2 separate regions of the Homo sapiens genome follow, and region 2 is reported to be linked to region 1. Evidence: microRNA targets listed by miRTarBase, many of them from high-throughput screens and not tested one by one. Region 1 holds a microRNA gene; the other region holds the end of a gene's coding sequence.

Region 1 (4,152 bases):
CCCTTGTCTTGGAATAGCATTCCTTTTATGTGGCCTATTTTTTACATGGAATTTTTCTCTAAGGAATGCCTCTCTACATTCCTACATTACATTAGCTATAAACTCACCTTGCCCCAGTATACCTAGCGCAGCTTCAATTTTTCCAATGAGGTTGCATTCTAGTCTTTTGGGTGGCCAATTCTGATGTCTCCAGGAATGCTGTTGCCATAATATGCTAATGGAATTAGTGCAATTTGGATAAATGAAGTTAATCCAGAACTGTTGGGTGTCCCAAACAATTGTTAGGTGGGTGGAGGCCTACCAAAGTGCTGGAATCACAAGTTTTTGTTTTTTTTTTGTTTTTTGCTTTTTTTTTTACACAGAGTCACAAGTTTTGTTTTGTTTTGTTTTCACACAGAGTCCTGCCCTGACGCCCAGGCTGGAGTGCAGTGGCATGATCTTGGCTCACTGCAAACTCCGCCTCCCAAGCTCAAGCAATTCTCTTGCCTCTGCCTCACGAGGAGCTGGGACTATAAGAGTGCACCACAACGCCCAGCTAATTTTTTTGTGTATATATATATATATATACACAAATATATATATACAAACACATGCATATATATACATATATATATATGTATATATATATATTTTTTGTTGTTTTTGAGACGGAGTCTTGCTCTGTCGCCCAGGCTGGAGTGCAGTGGCGCGATCTCGGCACACTACCAGCTCCGTCTCTCAGGTTCACGCCATTCTCCTGTCTCAGCCTCCCGAGTAGCTGGGACTACAGGCGCCTGCCACTACACCCGGCTAATTTTTTTTTTTATATTTTTAGTAGAGACGGGGTTTCACCGTGTTAGCCAGGATGGTCTCGATCTCCTGACCTCGTGATCTGCCCACCTTGGCCTCCCAAAGTGCTGGGATTATAGGCGTGAACCACCGTGCCCAGCCTTTTTTGTATTTTTTTAGTAGAGAAGGGGTTTCACCATGTTGGCCAGGGTGGCCTGGAACCCCTGACATCTAGTGATCCACCCTCCTTGGCCTCCCAAAGTGCTGGGATTACAATCATGAGCCACCACGCCTGGCCATCCAGCCACGTTTTTCTTATATAGGGTTCTTGTCAATGTAAAGACTAAGCTCAGTTGTATCTATGTGCAGACGGGCAGACAGCATGACAAAATTTATTATTTTACTGATTTAATGAAAACTATGCTTGACCTTTTGGTGTGTAAGTACATTAAAGCATAACTATAATTATGTGAAAGGATACATTGTTATGGGGATCAGGACATCTGGACTTTCTGTTGTTGTAGGAGTTTGTCCTTACAGGCATTATCAAGCTGCTTTCTTAATTGTAAACATATCAGGACCATGGGTTGTCACTGGCAAGGAATGTGCCTTGCTAGTTTTAAGATGGGGTTGATTTTTCAATGGTGTCACTGGCTCTCCTAGGCTCCTGCTTCCCTAATAAGAGGACTGCTTGAGGCCAGGAGTTTGATGCCACCCTGGGCAAAATATTGATACCTTGTCACTACAAAAAAAAAATTAGCTAGATGTGGCAGTGTGTGCTTGTGGTCCTGGCTACTGGAAGGCTGAGGCAGGAGGATTGCTTGACCCCAGGTGTTGGAGACTGCAGTGAGCTATGATCGTGCCACTGCACTTCAGCCTCAGAGACAGAATGAGACCCTGTTTCTTTCCCTCTTTTTTTGGCTTCATATTTTGTAATATTTTATTTGAGCACTGAAAAATTCTAGAAGTTACATAAATATAAGTAACTCATTTTACAGATTAAAAATTTGAGATTGAAATATTAGGCAACTTGCATGAGGTCAAAACGTGGCAAGATACAGAACAGAGACTGAACATACGACTCAAGATTTTCTGCATGTTTTACATTGGTGGGCTCAAATTTATTCAAATGACAGAGCCTCTAAGTGTTATGGTGTCCCTTGAGAAACATCTGCTTAATTCACAAGACTACATTATATGTACACAATATGAGAATCATGAGAACATATGTCCATGTCAAAAACATATGTCCATGTCAAAACTGTCTGCTAAAAGAAATATGAACTATTTATAAGTTTTCCATGAATATTCATATAGCAATTAATAATCAATTTACTACAACCCTATGAGACAGATACTAGTATTACCCTCCTTTTGCAGATAAGAAAATGGCATAGAGAAGTTAAGTCACTGGCCCAGGGTCACACAGCAAGAAGTGAAGATGAGCCTCCAACTCAGGCTGTCTGACTGTAGAACTCATGATCTTTAAGCATTATTCCATCATTTTGTCATCAATGAGGAGGAACAAAAACATTTACACATTAGTTCGTATGTGTGTTTCTCTGTGAGAGACCCTATTTCTAAAAAAAAAAAAAAAAGAATTTGTTGAAAGGACGCCACATGCAAAATTGATTGGAAGGGCAAACAACCAGTTCAGAAAATGTGAAAGAACAAATATTTCTCTGGCAGCCAGAACTAAAGCAAAACTCAAGTCAGTGCAAATATCAATAAGTCTGATAACACATTTCTAGGAGGGATGGGTGAAATGGCACCATTATATATTGCTGGTGTAGCATAAATGGGCATAACTTCTCCAGAAGGCACTTCTGTAATACCTTGTCAAAATTCCAAATGCCAAATGTACACACCTTTTGAGAAATTGCTTCTAAAAATATTTTGGCATAGAAGTGAAATAATGTAAGTAGAAGAGTATTCACAACAGCACTGTTTGTAATGGCAAAAGATTATAAGTCACTTAAATGTCCACCAATGGAAACTTAGTGGATTATGATACATTTTTACAATGTCTACTCTGAAGATAAAAAAAAAAGAGTGAGCAGGTCCTTGATGTACTCATATGGGACATGCTACATAGCATTAGAAGCAGTTTATATACGTAAAATATATATGTATTTTACATACGTACAAAAATACACACATGTAAATGAAAAACAAAACTATAAGCCCTCAAATGACTAAATGGACCCCCTCTTAGCCAAGAAGACACCAGAGAAATCTTAAAAATTAGTTCCTGGCCATGACAGGAAAGGAGGTCAGAAAGGCCTCAAGACATCCCCTCCCTTTTGGAATTTAGGCACAACTGACTAGCAATAATGTTACAATAGAAATCAAAAGACTGACAGAACAAACTCTGTGGCAATAAAATACCAAATTATAAACAGGACCTAAAGCCATGCAAGGCAAGGGTTAGGTCACACCTGCAGGCCATCTGTCTTGATAAGTAGGTCATTTTGACCCAGTATATTGAAGCTTGCTCTCACAACCGGACTCTGACACAGCATCCTTATCCCAATTTCAACATTCCTTTCTGCTAACTCCAAGTTTTTAGACAAAGCTTTGTTCCTTTAACCCACTGCAAATTTAAAAAATCTCTGAACCCACTGTGACCTGTAAGCCCCTGCTTCAAGATATCTCATGTTTTCGGGCTAAACTAGTGTATAACCTCCATGTATTGATTTACGGTTTTGGCTGTAACTTTTGCTTCCCTAAAATGTATAAAACAAAGTTACATTCTTGAACTCCTGATCTCAAGTGATCCGCCTCCCTAGGCCTCCCATAGCGCTGGGAGTATAGGCTTGAGCCACCACTCACCGCCATAGACAAAGTTACATTCTGACTGCCTCAGGACCACTTACTCAAGGCTTCTTGGGTTTGTGTTTTCCCTGGGCCTCCATCACTCATACTGGCTCAGAATAAACCTTAAAATACTTCACAGGGCCAGGCATGGTGGATCAAGCCTATGATCCCAGCACTTTGGGAGGCCAAGGTGGGGGAATTGCTTGAGCCCAGGAATTTGAGACCAGCCTAGGCAACATAGTGAGACTCCATCTCTTAAAAAAAATATATATATATATATATTTTAGTGTGTGTGTGTATATATATATAATGTGTATATATATATTATATATATATTTATATATATATATAAAATATATATATACACATTATATATATATTTTATATATATATATATAAATATATATATAATATATATATACACATTATATATATATACACACACACACACACATAAGCCAGGCACGGTGGCTCATGCCTGTAATCCCAGCACTTTGGGAGGCTGAAGTGGGCAGATCACAAGGTCAGAGTTCAAGACCAGCCTGGCCAATATGGTGAAACCCCGTC
Region 2 (4,000 bases), not on the chromosome of region 1:
ATGTCACATTTATTGTTTATATGTACAACCTTTACTTGGCACCAGATCGAGCGGAAGTGGGTATACAAAAGTAGAAGTGGGTTTCAGAGAAGGAGCATACTTATCTGACAACTTCTGATATCTTTCACATGCAGTTATAAGGCTAAGAAATACCACTATTGGCCGGGTGCAGTGGCTCACGCCTGTAATCCTAGCACTTTGGGAGGCCGAGGTGGGCAGATTGCTCAAGCTCAGGAGTTCGAGACCAGCCTGGGCAGTGTGACGAAAGCCCATCTTTACAAAAAATACAAAAATTAGCCAGGGGTGGTGGCATGTCCGTGGTCCCAACTACTTGCGGGATTGTGGCGGGAAGGATCACTTGAGCTCTGGAGGTCAAGGCTGCAGTGAGCTGTGTTTGCACCATTGCCCTCCAGCCTGAGTGACAGAGTGAAACCCTATCTTAAAAAAGAAAGCAAAAAGAAATAACCACTATTTAGCAGATCTCTTTTGGAGGAAGATAAAAGCTTGTAAAACCATTTATCTTTGGAGGAAGAGAAGTACAAGAATATTGATTAGGTAGATGCAAAATTATAATAACCTTTTTTCTCTTCAAAGATACCAAACCTGGCTAAAAAACTTGAAGAAATTAAAAAGGACTTGGATGCCAAGAAGAAACCCCCTAGTGCATGAGACTGCCTCCAGCACTGCCTTCAGGATATACTGATTCTACTGCTCTTGAGGGCCTCGTTTACTATCTGAACCAAAAGCTTTTGTTTTCGTCTCCAGCCTCAGCACTTCTCTTCTTTGCTAGACCCTGTGTTTTTTGCTTTAAAGCAAGCAAAATGGGGCCCCAATTTGAGAACTACCCGACATTTCCAACATACTCACCTCTTCCCATAATCCCTTTCCAACTGCATGGGAGGTTCTAAGACTGGAATTATGGTGCTAGATTAGTAAACATGACTTTTAATGAGTAGTGTCTTCTTTATCGTTTGCGATTTTTACTACCTTTTTTCAAAAGAAAAATTGATGAGTTTTGTATAGCTGGTCAGATACAAATAATAGTGACTTCACAGTTTAGTAATTATAATGGGTACTTGTTAAACATTTGGTACTAAATTATGTTGCTGCAAAGTAATTAAAATTAGTATCTAGAGCTAGTTTCTGGTGAATTATTCATTTATTTTGTACTGTTGTTAGGCAGCTCTGTAGTTGCTAATTTAACCAATAAGTCAATTTGCTATTCATGAAGAAACGATTCTGAGAATCCTGTCAGGAATTGGGGAATGAAAAAATACACAAAATAATGGTCTTTGTCCCAGTAGAGTTCATAGTCTATTTAGTGTGCATGTTTTTCCTTAATGATGTATTTGATCTGACTTTTTTCCTTCTCAAAAGAATCATACTTGGGATTACAGGTACATTTGATGTTATATGATGGATAAGTGAAAAGTTTTTAAAGGAGATTTTATACCTTTTCACATTAAAAAAGGTATTTATATTATTACTTTGTAGTGATTGTCTTAAGAAAAAATATAGCCCAAATGTATAGTAAAATCAGCAGCTCAAGAAGAATTTCTGCTTCTCTTTGTAGTTGATGCTTTGTTTTTTCCTGCAGTCAGAAATTCCTTGTATTTGTCAAATGTATAATCAGCTTGTATTGTTTTTAAATTAAAAAAAAATTTGAATAATTAACTTTTGCCATGGGACAAGATACAAAAGTAATTTCATATAAAGGGCCTCTCCCACCCCTGTTCTCTGGCTCCTGGCTCCTGTTTGACAAGTTACTGTTACCACTTCGCCTTATACTTTTGAGAAAGAGTCTGTGCCTAAACAAACACGTGTAACACAAATAGTAACTATACATGGAGGTCTAGCCCTCGCCTTTTTTTTTTCTTTTTTTCTTTTTTAATGGAGATCATTCTATACCAGCATGTAAGTAGCAAGGAACCTCATTCTTTTTTTGGCTGCCTAAAATTTTTTTGAATAGATATAACATAATTGATTTAATCTGCTACTGGTGAATGCTTAGGTTGTTCTTTTGCTATTACAGTGATAACTTCAATCCTAATGTTATTAAGCATATCGATTCAGGGTATAGCTATAAGATGAAGTCCTAAAAGTATAATTTAGACTAAATACAAATACCCATTTCGCTAGCTGTTTTGTTTCAGAGGACTTGTTGAGCAGCTTCACTAATAATGCCATTTTTGAAGACATGGCAGGTTCAGAATCAATAAACTGGAAGAATTGTTCAGAGCATCTTTTTTCAGACAGTGATGACATTGATTCTGTATATGATAAAGTGATTCTGCTTCTCTTTGACAACTTGCATCTCTCCTACATGGAAGTAAGTTTTATTCCTGTCAATGTTGTCTTTGTGTGTGACAGATTAGGATTAAATTATGGTTTGACTTTTCCTAGCAGCGTGATCATGGGCAAGTGGCTTTTTTTTTTTTTTTTTTTTGAGACAGAGTCTCACTCTGCTGCCCAGGCTGGAGTGCAGTGGCACAGTCTTGGCTCACTGCAACTCCTGCCTCCCGGTCCAAGTGATTCTCGTGCTGCAGCTTCTCAAGTAGCTGGCATCACCACCACACCTGGCTAATTTTTGTATTTTTAGTAACGACGAGGTTTCACCATGTTGGCAAAGCTGGTCTCAAATTCCTGGCCTCAAGTGATCTGCCCACTTCAGCCTCCCAAAGTGTTGGGATTACAGGCGTGAGCCACTGCGCCCAGCTTTTTTAAACTTTTAGATTCATTTAATAGGTAAATTGCATGTCACGGGTTTGTAGCTTATTCTTTCAGAAACTCTTGCATTATCTGTAGACGTGGACGTAAATATCCACCTCATAGGGTTTTCATAAAAAATAATTGAGATAATGTATGTAATGTTTCACAGTGCTTTGCAGACTATCTAATAAATAGTAGCTATTAGTACAAACTTGTTGCTTTTTGGCTAGTTCTGCAGTCACTTTTGGAATCAGTTTATGAACCACACAAAAAGTTTGTCATTATTCTGTAGTCGCTGTTTTTGATACTGATGAAAATTTACAGTATCCACCTGGATTGTACCATCTGGCTCACAAGATTTGATCTTGAATTGTTAGCACAATGAACTACAGCCTCAAAGGATGAAAGTTTACCTTGCGGGTATTAAAAATGCTAGAAGCTTAGAAAGCTGTTTCCAAAGAGGGATTCCTTGTTACCAACCATGATAGCATTGCTGTGGTGTGTGTGGTCTCCCAGAGTGGCTGCTTTGGGATTGGAGGTCACTTAGCTATTAGAAGGATAGGTCTCTTTATATTATACCTTGTAAACAAGGCTCATTTGGACTTAGGGCTTCCTTTAGAGGTGACACTTAACCTTGGCAAGGGGATCATTTCTACCAGTGGGATCCATCTAGCAGATCAGTTCTTAAATTCGGCTTCATCATGTAAACTGCTACACAGTGCAGGCTGACTTTGCATTCACCATTCAGATACCCTCTCCTAGTTTTATGTTCTTGGCAGCAGTGAAAAGGACCTCAGAGTTCTCAGGCAAGATGATCTTCACTGAGCTATATGTTGGAGGAGCCCAGAACCATCATAGTTTTAGGGTGTAGTTGAAAATCCTTACTGTGAATGGGGTTTATGGCACTGAAAGTTACCCCTTCCCTGGGAATTTTGTAGGAACCCTTGCCACACAGATCAATGGAGTGGTGGGAAGAAGCACCACAAGACAGGCCTTTTTTTTTTCCTTTAAAAAATGTTTGAAAGCTCCTACTAATATGGTTAGGAAAACTTCTGCCACATCTGACCATAAAATGAGAGTTGCTCAAAATACTAGTGCAGATTACTCTGACATGTGAAATACAAGACTTCAGGATTGATGCTAGAAAAATACAGTGAACTTGAAAAGCTTATCCCTAAACTGTAATCCTCCCAAACAAAACAAAAACAAAGCAAGAAAAAAAGCCTTATTTAAAATTGTCAAAAGAGGCTGAATTTTATGAAGTTACCAAAAGTATATCTTTAGACTTTTC

The links. Region 1 holds the annotated microRNA hsa-miR-3168 (GAGUUCUACAGUCAGAC, at 2,230-2,246, opposite strand). A microRNA usually pairs through its seed, bases 2 to 8, with sites in the 3' UTR of a target mRNA and lowers its output. Matches are read on the target gene's strand: a 7mer-m8 pairs with bases 2 to 8, a 7mer-A1 pairs with bases 2 to 7 and ends in A, and an 8mer does both.
Region 2: the mRNA of STMP1 is a reported target of hsa-miR-3168. Seed matches in the 3' UTR shown: 7mer-A1 at 838-844.

The regions. Positions count from the first base shown.
Region 1 is chr13:41,098,847-41,102,998 of GRCh38, forward strand. MIR3168 (microRNA 3168) reads right to left here and starts at 2,254; the gene lies at 2,173-2,254.
Region 2 is chr7:135,673,497-135,677,496 of GRCh38, forward strand. STMP1 (short transmembrane mitochondrial protein 1) reads left to right here. Exons shown (of 3, transcript NM_001130929.2): 3 at 595-2,920. The coding sequence ends at 669. Among named protein-coding and RNA genes, the nearest start is that of STMP1, 13 kb to the left of the region's middle.